2 linked regions of the Homo sapiens genome follow. The protein of the gene in region 1 purifies or fractionates together with the protein of each later gene. This does not show direct contact. Each region holds a gene or a part of one and is shown in the gene's direction. Other genes may lie near its edges.

The links.
Region 2: the proteins of FLRT3 (region 1) and SLC6A9 fractionate together in Homo sapiens (co-fractionation; one large-scale study listed by BioGRID). This does not show direct contact.

The regions. Positions count from the first base shown.
Region 1 is NC_000020.11:14,334,813-14,338,941, reverse strand, and holds the start of FLRT3 (leucine-rich repeat transmembrane protein FLRT3 precursor), read left to right. Parts: upstream 1-1,329; 5' UTR 1,330-1,538; intron 1,539-4,129. UniProt on the Homo sapiens protein: Functions in cell-cell adhesion, cell migration and axon guidance, exerting an attractive or repulsive role depending on its interaction partners. Plays a role in the spatial organization of brain neurons. Plays a role in vascular development in the retina.
Region 2 is NC_000001.11:44,007,463-44,010,962, reverse strand, and holds part of SLC6A9 (sodium- and chloride-dependent glycine transporter 1), read left to right. Parts: intron 1-80; coding exon 81-237; intron 238-866; coding exon 867-998; intron 999-2,339; coding exon 2,340-2,610; intron 2,611-3,500. UniProt on the Homo sapiens protein: Sodium- and chloride-dependent glycine transporter. Essential for regulating glycine concentrations at inhibitory glycinergic synapses.

The DNA.
Region 1 (4,129 bases):
AAATATAAAAGCTAAGTTCTTACCACCAACATGAACAAGTGAAATACACTTATTTGATGGAAAACTTACGGGCACAAAGCAATTGTTGACCAAATAGCAGAAACCAGTCTACAAAAATCATAATTAAAAATACAAGTATAATTCTGTTAATTAGGCATAGAAATTTATAATCTCCACGTCTTACAATTGTCCAGTGTTTATTCATGTACCTAAATTAAACTAAAATAATTTCAATCCAGGCAAACCACCCTGAAAGATTTTTTTCTTAAGATGTTTATATCTAAACCCATGCTCAGATCAGCAAAAACATTTAGAAAGGAAAATATTCTATTAAATTTTTTAAAAACATTTTATTGGGGGATCGTTAAATATAAATAATCCATTTTAAATAATATAAACACGTAGCAGAAGTACATAAAACATACTTTCATTTTCTAAAACATAGAGAACAGTAACTTCTTCGCCTCCAAAAGAACAGACCATTTAATACCATTTAAAAAAATCTTTTGGCATTCCTATTGCCCTTCCCATAACTAAATGAATCAGTGACACGTGTATATATATACATATATTGGAGATGGAGTTTCGTTCTTGTTGCCCAGGCTGGAGTGCAATGGTGCAATCTTGGCTCACTGCAACCTCTGCCTCCCGGGTTCAAGTGATTCTCCTGCCTCAGCCTCCCAAACAGCTGGGATTACGGGCGCCCAGCTAATTTTTTCTACATGTTGGTCAGGCTGGTCTCGAACTCCTGACCTCAGGTGATCCTCCCACCTCGGCCTCCCAAAGTGCCGGAATTAGAGGCGTGAGCCACCACACCCAGCCCTGATGTATATATTTGAATCTGCTGTTTATTCATATGTTGAATAAACATTCACAGTTGGGATTACTGGCATACATCTTCCACAATTATAACATTATTTTAGCTAGTGAATAATAAAACTAATTTGATTTTGGTTAACTTCTTTTCAATACAGATGGTTTAAAAATAAGACAAAGCCTGTCTTTTTCTATTGTGATCTTAAAAATATCTTTCTAACATGCTTTTTAAAAAAAATACATAAGTATGCTACCACTGCCTTGTAGTAAACTTTAGAAAATGTTGAGATTCCAAAGGGCTGCCTACAAACCAAATGGCATCCTAGCTTTGGCAGGCTGATGCTTCATTTTGGCTGCTCTCGCCCCCTCTAGCGTTTGCAAAGCTCATCTGTCTGATTATCCAGTTACCTCACTGAACAAGATCTTGGCTAAGTCCTGCCCATCTATGACATCACCCCCTTCTTCAGCCACTGCGAGGTGAAGCTTTAAACTTCAGACTTGGAGGTGGGCTGTGTGCAGTAAACTGGAATGCTCTCCCTCGCTCACTCCTCAGTGTAGGAGTGATCTGAAGCAGGACAAGCTCAGCCTGCAGCTGCCGTGGGCTTTGTGTGGACTGGACGCAGAGCTTGGGAGACGGGGGAGGGCTATTACTCCAATTCACTGTCAATGGAATTACAGCTATAGCGGCAGTGTATATAGGATTGCTTTTTCTCGTCTTCCTGGTAAGTGTTTTCCATGTTTTTTCTTATGATTGTCCCAGAAAGTTTGCTTGGTTTTACTCTCTAGAAAGAAACGACTTGATACTATGAGAAATCCAAATAGGAACGTTTGCTCTGTCACCACAACAAGCAATATATGTGCGTGCAAGCCAGCAATGAAAAATTTCACTATCATGGCTGAATGTAAGAAGTTTCTTAGAACCTTCTTTCATTTATAAAAGATAGTAAGTGGCTATTTTCTGTCTTGAGTAATTGCTATGTGAAAAGAGCCTTATGGAAAACAGCAAGTTGGAAAGTTCAATGTTAAATATTAAAGAATACAAGGAGATTCTTCACAGATAGGAAAGCAACTTGGTGTGTACTGTACGTGTGGGATGATCACCAATTGCTGTTTTTACAACTGTGAAAGAAAATCAATAATCCCTCAGCCCATGAGTACGCAGTACATGAAAAGCATACATCTTGCTCACAGCTAGCCGAGCTACTCCTGGAGACTTATGTGCCTCTGTAAAGGATTAACAGCTACACCTAGATTTTAAAGCTTGCACTGCTATCGTGCCTGAGCTGCTTCAAGCATTTCAGGCTTGCAAATCTCAACTAGTAAATTGAACTCAGAGGAGGGGGAGACACTCTTCCAAACCATATTCCCTCTTCAATAGAACACCAAAATCCATTGCTTAGGCAAGTGAAGTATGTGACTAGCATAGTAAATGGCTAAGTCTACTCAGAAAAACTAACAAAGCTCACCCTGGAAGCTATGCCTGATGTATGCAGTGAGTTTGGGGTAGCAGGAAAGAAAAATAAATGAGTAGAGCCCTTATCAAGTGGGTTTTGCAGAGGATCCATTCTTTGCAACTTATAATAGGAAAATCTTATATTGGAAGAAATGCATTTATACTACAAAGCTTGAAAAAGTAGTTAAATGTATCTTCTCAAAAAATTTTGTTCACTGAATTAGGTCTGAAACAAAATGGTTGCATATAGGTAAAGAGTGCAACAGGCCCATCCATGTCTTCTCAACATCTGGGGGGTTTGTTTTTATTATTTTATTTAGAATTTAAAAGAAAAAAAATTGATTTTTTTTTCAATTTTTAGTCCAAAATCTCTAATGGTTTTAATAATAAGGCTATTTTAAACATTCTTAATAAATCTGTCTATTAATAAATCTGTCTAAAATGCTCATCTATGTTATTTTATTATCCAGAAACAACATAAATAAAGCCACTAGAAAAGTCCTTCAGCTGTAGCAATGCCTTTCATTTATCTCTGACTGCATAAAAATATCCTGACCAGCCTAAACATAAAGAATAAATTTGCTTATATTCAGGGAGAATCACTTATACCTGACCCAAAGTGACAGATGACTAATATTCATCTCTTCCGAAATGAGTAAAGAAAAATTAATCCTTTAAAAGTGCCACAATCAATAATATCAACATTACCAACTACTACAAATATTAATGATAATATGCCAGGTTTTACCATGGGAAAATTAAATCAGAGATATGCCCCTTAGTTTGGACACATATATATACACACAGACAAACGCACATCTATTTATTACCCTGAAATAAAAACAGAGTTACAAAAACGCATAGATTTACTAAGAAAACTAAAATTTGATTTTTTGAAGAGCACAACCAAAACACATCAAGTCCAAGGATCAGCAAAATATTAGTGAATGAATAAACATAATGAATTCATTAATATTGCGGTTCTGTAAAACTGTCTACCAGTTACTAATTGGGTTTTTCATTTCGCTGCACCCCACCCTTTAAAATCAATTATGACTGGGTTCAAAATGCACAATTAAACACTTCCCAAACATAACGTTTGTGAGATATATAATTGGATAGCAAATAAAGTTTTTACAAAAAGAAGAAAAACAGTAAGAAAATCTGTCATAACTAAATGTGGCAGCAAAATAGAAGGTATGTTTCTTTTGCTTTCAAGTGTTAATTAAGGAGCCTACAATTCTATCAAAACTTTTTCAGAGCTAAATGAAGCAGTGTGAAATAAATTTGGTTGAAATCTTGTGGCTGTCAGACTTTGTTAGCAAGCTATTAATTATCTTTACCCCAGTTTCTTCTCTAGACTATATTGCCCAATCAAATAGAAACTCCAATTATGCTCAGCATCTCCTGCCTAGGGACACAAGACCCTAATGAACACTCAGTCTCTCTAGATGAAAAATACAATAATCAGCTTTAAACATGCAAGTGCACTGCAGAGAGATTTTTCTGTGCTTTTCTTGGCCACACACCCTAAGGCTTCCTCCTTTTTCTGGATTATTTTGAACAGTTTTAAGCCCTACAAAAATCAGTGCAGGGAATTGGCCTTGTCTTAATAATATATTAATGTTTCTTCTTTCTTGCTTTTCATTTTTGATATGCCAATGTTCATACCAATATTAAATCTGGTCAATGAAAAAGTATTGGTTTATAGTTGCCATTTCAGTCATTTCTTAACTTCTATGCCTCTTTTTAAGGTGGGTGGGCTATATAACAAAGAATGTGATTGATTAATGGCAAAATCCAGAGCTAACTTAAAAATTCTGAATAGATCCCCTTATATATTCTTTTATTCAAACCCAT
Region 2 (3,500 bases), on another chromosome or scaffold:
TCCCTGCTGGGGGAGGCCCAGAGGGTCAGGCATGGAGCACAAATGCCTTGCTGATGGTAGCTTCTCTCCTGTCCCCACAGAATGGTGCTGTGCCCAGCGAGGCCACCAAGAGGGACCAGAACCTCAAACGGGGCAACTGGGGCAACCAGATCGAGTTTGTACTGACGAGCGTGGGCTATGCCGTGGGCCTGGGCAATGTCTGGCGCTTCCCATACCTCTGCTATCGCAACGGGGGAGGTACCCAGTGGGCACAGGGCAGGGACCACCCACTTGGGTAGAGCCCACCCACCAGGGCCTGGGCCACCCTCTCCCTGGCACAGACCCACTCCAGATAAAGGCTGGCCTCTGGCCCTGGCCTCCTTCGCCCCCATCCCTGGCTTAGGCACCCTTTGCCTAAGGCAGGCCACCCCAGACCCTGGCAGTCTGTTGTTGGGGGCTGGCCCTGCCAGTTGGCCCCCTTTGAGGTGAGGAGAGGTGAGAAAAGGACCTAACCCCCCCCCCCCCCCGCCCACAAGGCTCCCTGTTCTATTCCCTGGGGTTCAGCAGCCCCCCTAAATGGTTCAGGGATGTTGAGGATCTCAGCAACTTATGCTTGTGAAATCGCTTGTTTAAACCATCAAATCCCACCCAAGTATGGAGGCTCTGGGACCTGGATTCCACTCCAAGCAGAATTCCTGAGAGCCTCTGTCAAGTTGAAAGACAGGCTGGGGGTGGTGTGCCTCAGCCCAGGCTCCTGCTCAAGCCTGGCACACTCCTCCCTGGGTCCTACCCAATCGCGAAGGTTTTGCTGTTGAGTTCTGAGCAGGAAGCCCAGGGTGAGATCCCTCCAAGCCCACTCCTGAGCCAGACCTCTCCCTGCCTACCAGGCGCCTTCATGTTCCCCTACTTCATCATGCTCATCTTCTGCGGGATCCCCCTCTTCTTCATGGAGCTCTCCTTCGGCCAGTTTGCAAGCCAGGGGTGCCTGGGGGTCTGGAGGATCAGCCCCATGTTCAAAGGTGAGGCCTGGGCGGGGCACTCGCTCACACATACACAAACACACAACGGCCTCTGAGGGCCGTGCCAACTCGCCCATCTGTACAAACATGGCTGACCTCTGTAGAGCCCTGATGCTGACCCCAAGCCCCACATCAACGGCCTAAGCCATGGATGCATGCTGGGACCCATGTTTACTTGGCTGCCACCCTCCCCTCCTACCACGTGTACACACAAAACTCCTTTGCGCCACCCCCCGCCAACTTACCCCTACCAAGACCTTGACCTGGCCTTCCTTTGGCCCTCCATCTCAGCCTGCCCCTTGGGCCCTTAGAAATTATTAACCTCGGGCCAGGCACAGTGGCTCACGCCTGTAATCCCAGCACTTTGGGAGGCCAAGGCAGGCAGATCACCTGAGGTCAGGAGTTTGAGACCAGCCTGACCAACATGGAGAAACCCCATCTTGGCCGGGCGCGGTGGCTTACCCCTGTAATCCCAGCACTTTGGGAGGCCAAGGCAGGCGGATCACAAGGTCAGGAGATCAAGACCATACTGGCTAATACGGTGAAACCCTGTCTCTACTAAAAATACAAAAACAAAATTAGCTTGGTGTGGTGGCAGGTGCCTGCAGTCCTAGCTACTCTGGGGGCTGAGGCGGGAGAATGGCGTGAACCCGGGAGGCAGAGCTTGTAGTGAGCCAAGATCATGCCACAGCACTCCAGCCTGGGCGACAGAGGGAGACTCCATGTCAAAAAAAAAAAAAAGGAAACCCCATCTCTACTAAAAATACAAAATTATCCAGATATGGTGGCGCATGCCTCTAATCCCAGCTACTCGGGAGGCTGAGGCAGGAGAATCGCTTGAACCTGGGAGGCGGAGGTTGCAGTGAGCCGAGATCGCGCCATTGCACTCCAGCCTGGGCAAGAAAAGCAAAAACTCCGTCTCAAAAAAAAAAAAAAAAAAAAAAAGGCCGGGCGCGGTGGCTCACGCCTGTAATCCCAGCACTTCGGGAGGCCGAGGCAGGCGGATCACGAGGTCAGGAGATCAAGACCATCCTGGCTAACACAGTGAAACCCCGTCTCTACTAAAAATACAAAAAAATTAGCCAGGCGTGGTGGTGGGCGCCTGTAGTCCCAGCTACTCGGTAGGTTGAGGCAGGAGAATGGCATGAACCCAGGAGGTGGAGCTTGCAGTGAGCCAAGATTCCGCCACTGCACTCCAGCCTGGGTGTCAGAGCCTGGGCAACAGAGCTAGACTCCATCTCAAAAAAAAAAAAAGAAAAGAAAAGAAAAAAAAGAAATTATTAACCTCACCTCCTCCTGCTGGATGCTGAGGCTCCTCCCCCCACCCCTCCCCTCCTGCAGGAGTGGGCTATGGTATGATGGTGGTGTCCACCTACATCGGCATCTACTACAATGTGGTCATCTGCATCGCCTTCTACTACTTCTTCTCGTCCATGACGCACGTGCTGCCCTGGGCCTACTGCAATAACCCCTGGAACACGCATGACTGCGCCGGTGTACTGGACGCCTCCAACCTCACCAATGGCTCTCGGCCAGCCGCCTTGCCCAGCAACCTCTCCCACCTGCTCAACCACAGCCTCCAGAGGACCAGCCCCAGCGAGGAGTACTGGAGGTGAGGCACCTGCAGGACCTGGGGTGGGGGGAACCTGGTGGCAACCCTGTCCCCACTGGGCAACCATCTGAAGACAAAGTAGGGTGCCTGCTGCAGGTTCAGCCCGCTGCTGGGCTGGGAGAGGGTAGAGGTGAGTGAAGAGTTTAGGAGAAGAGCCTGATGTACAGAAAGCAATGGAAGATGGAGGCCGGGCACGGTGGCTCATGCCTGTAATCCCAGCACTTTGGGAGGCCGAGGCGGGCAGATCACGAGGTCAGGAGATCGAGACCATCCTGGCTAACACGGTGAAACCCTGTCTCTACTAAAAATACAAAAAGAGAAAAGAATTAGCCGGGCGTGGTGGCAGGCACAGGAGAATGGCGTGAACCCGGGAGGCAGAGCTTGCAATGAGCTGAGATCGCGCCACTGCACTTCAGCCTGGGCGACAGAGCAAGACTCCATCTCAAAAAAAAAAAAAAAAGAAAGAAAGCAATGGAAGATGGAATGTTGAGTTGCAGGATCTTTACAGAGTAGCCGTGAGGAAGGCCGTCAGAAATCCAGCAAACCAGCCTTCAGAGGAGACTCAGGGGAAAGGGGGGCAGATCCTGGGGAGAAGAAGAGTGTGGGCAAAGGCTCTGTCCCAGATGAGCAGAGGCTGGCCCCAAAGCTGAAGGGAGCCTACTCTGATGAGAGTAACAGGTGTGGGGAGAATGCATGGGCTTCAGGTGGCCTAGGAAGTGGCACTGCCTTCATAAAGAACTTGCCAGGATTAGGCTTAGACTTGATGATGCAGAACAAAAGACGCCATGGAAGGTCTCTGAGCCGGGGGTGCCGTGATCAAGACATCCTGGCACATTTTGTTCAGAGGCGACAGAGACCAGAGTCTCAGGCCATCCTGCTGTGCCCTCCAC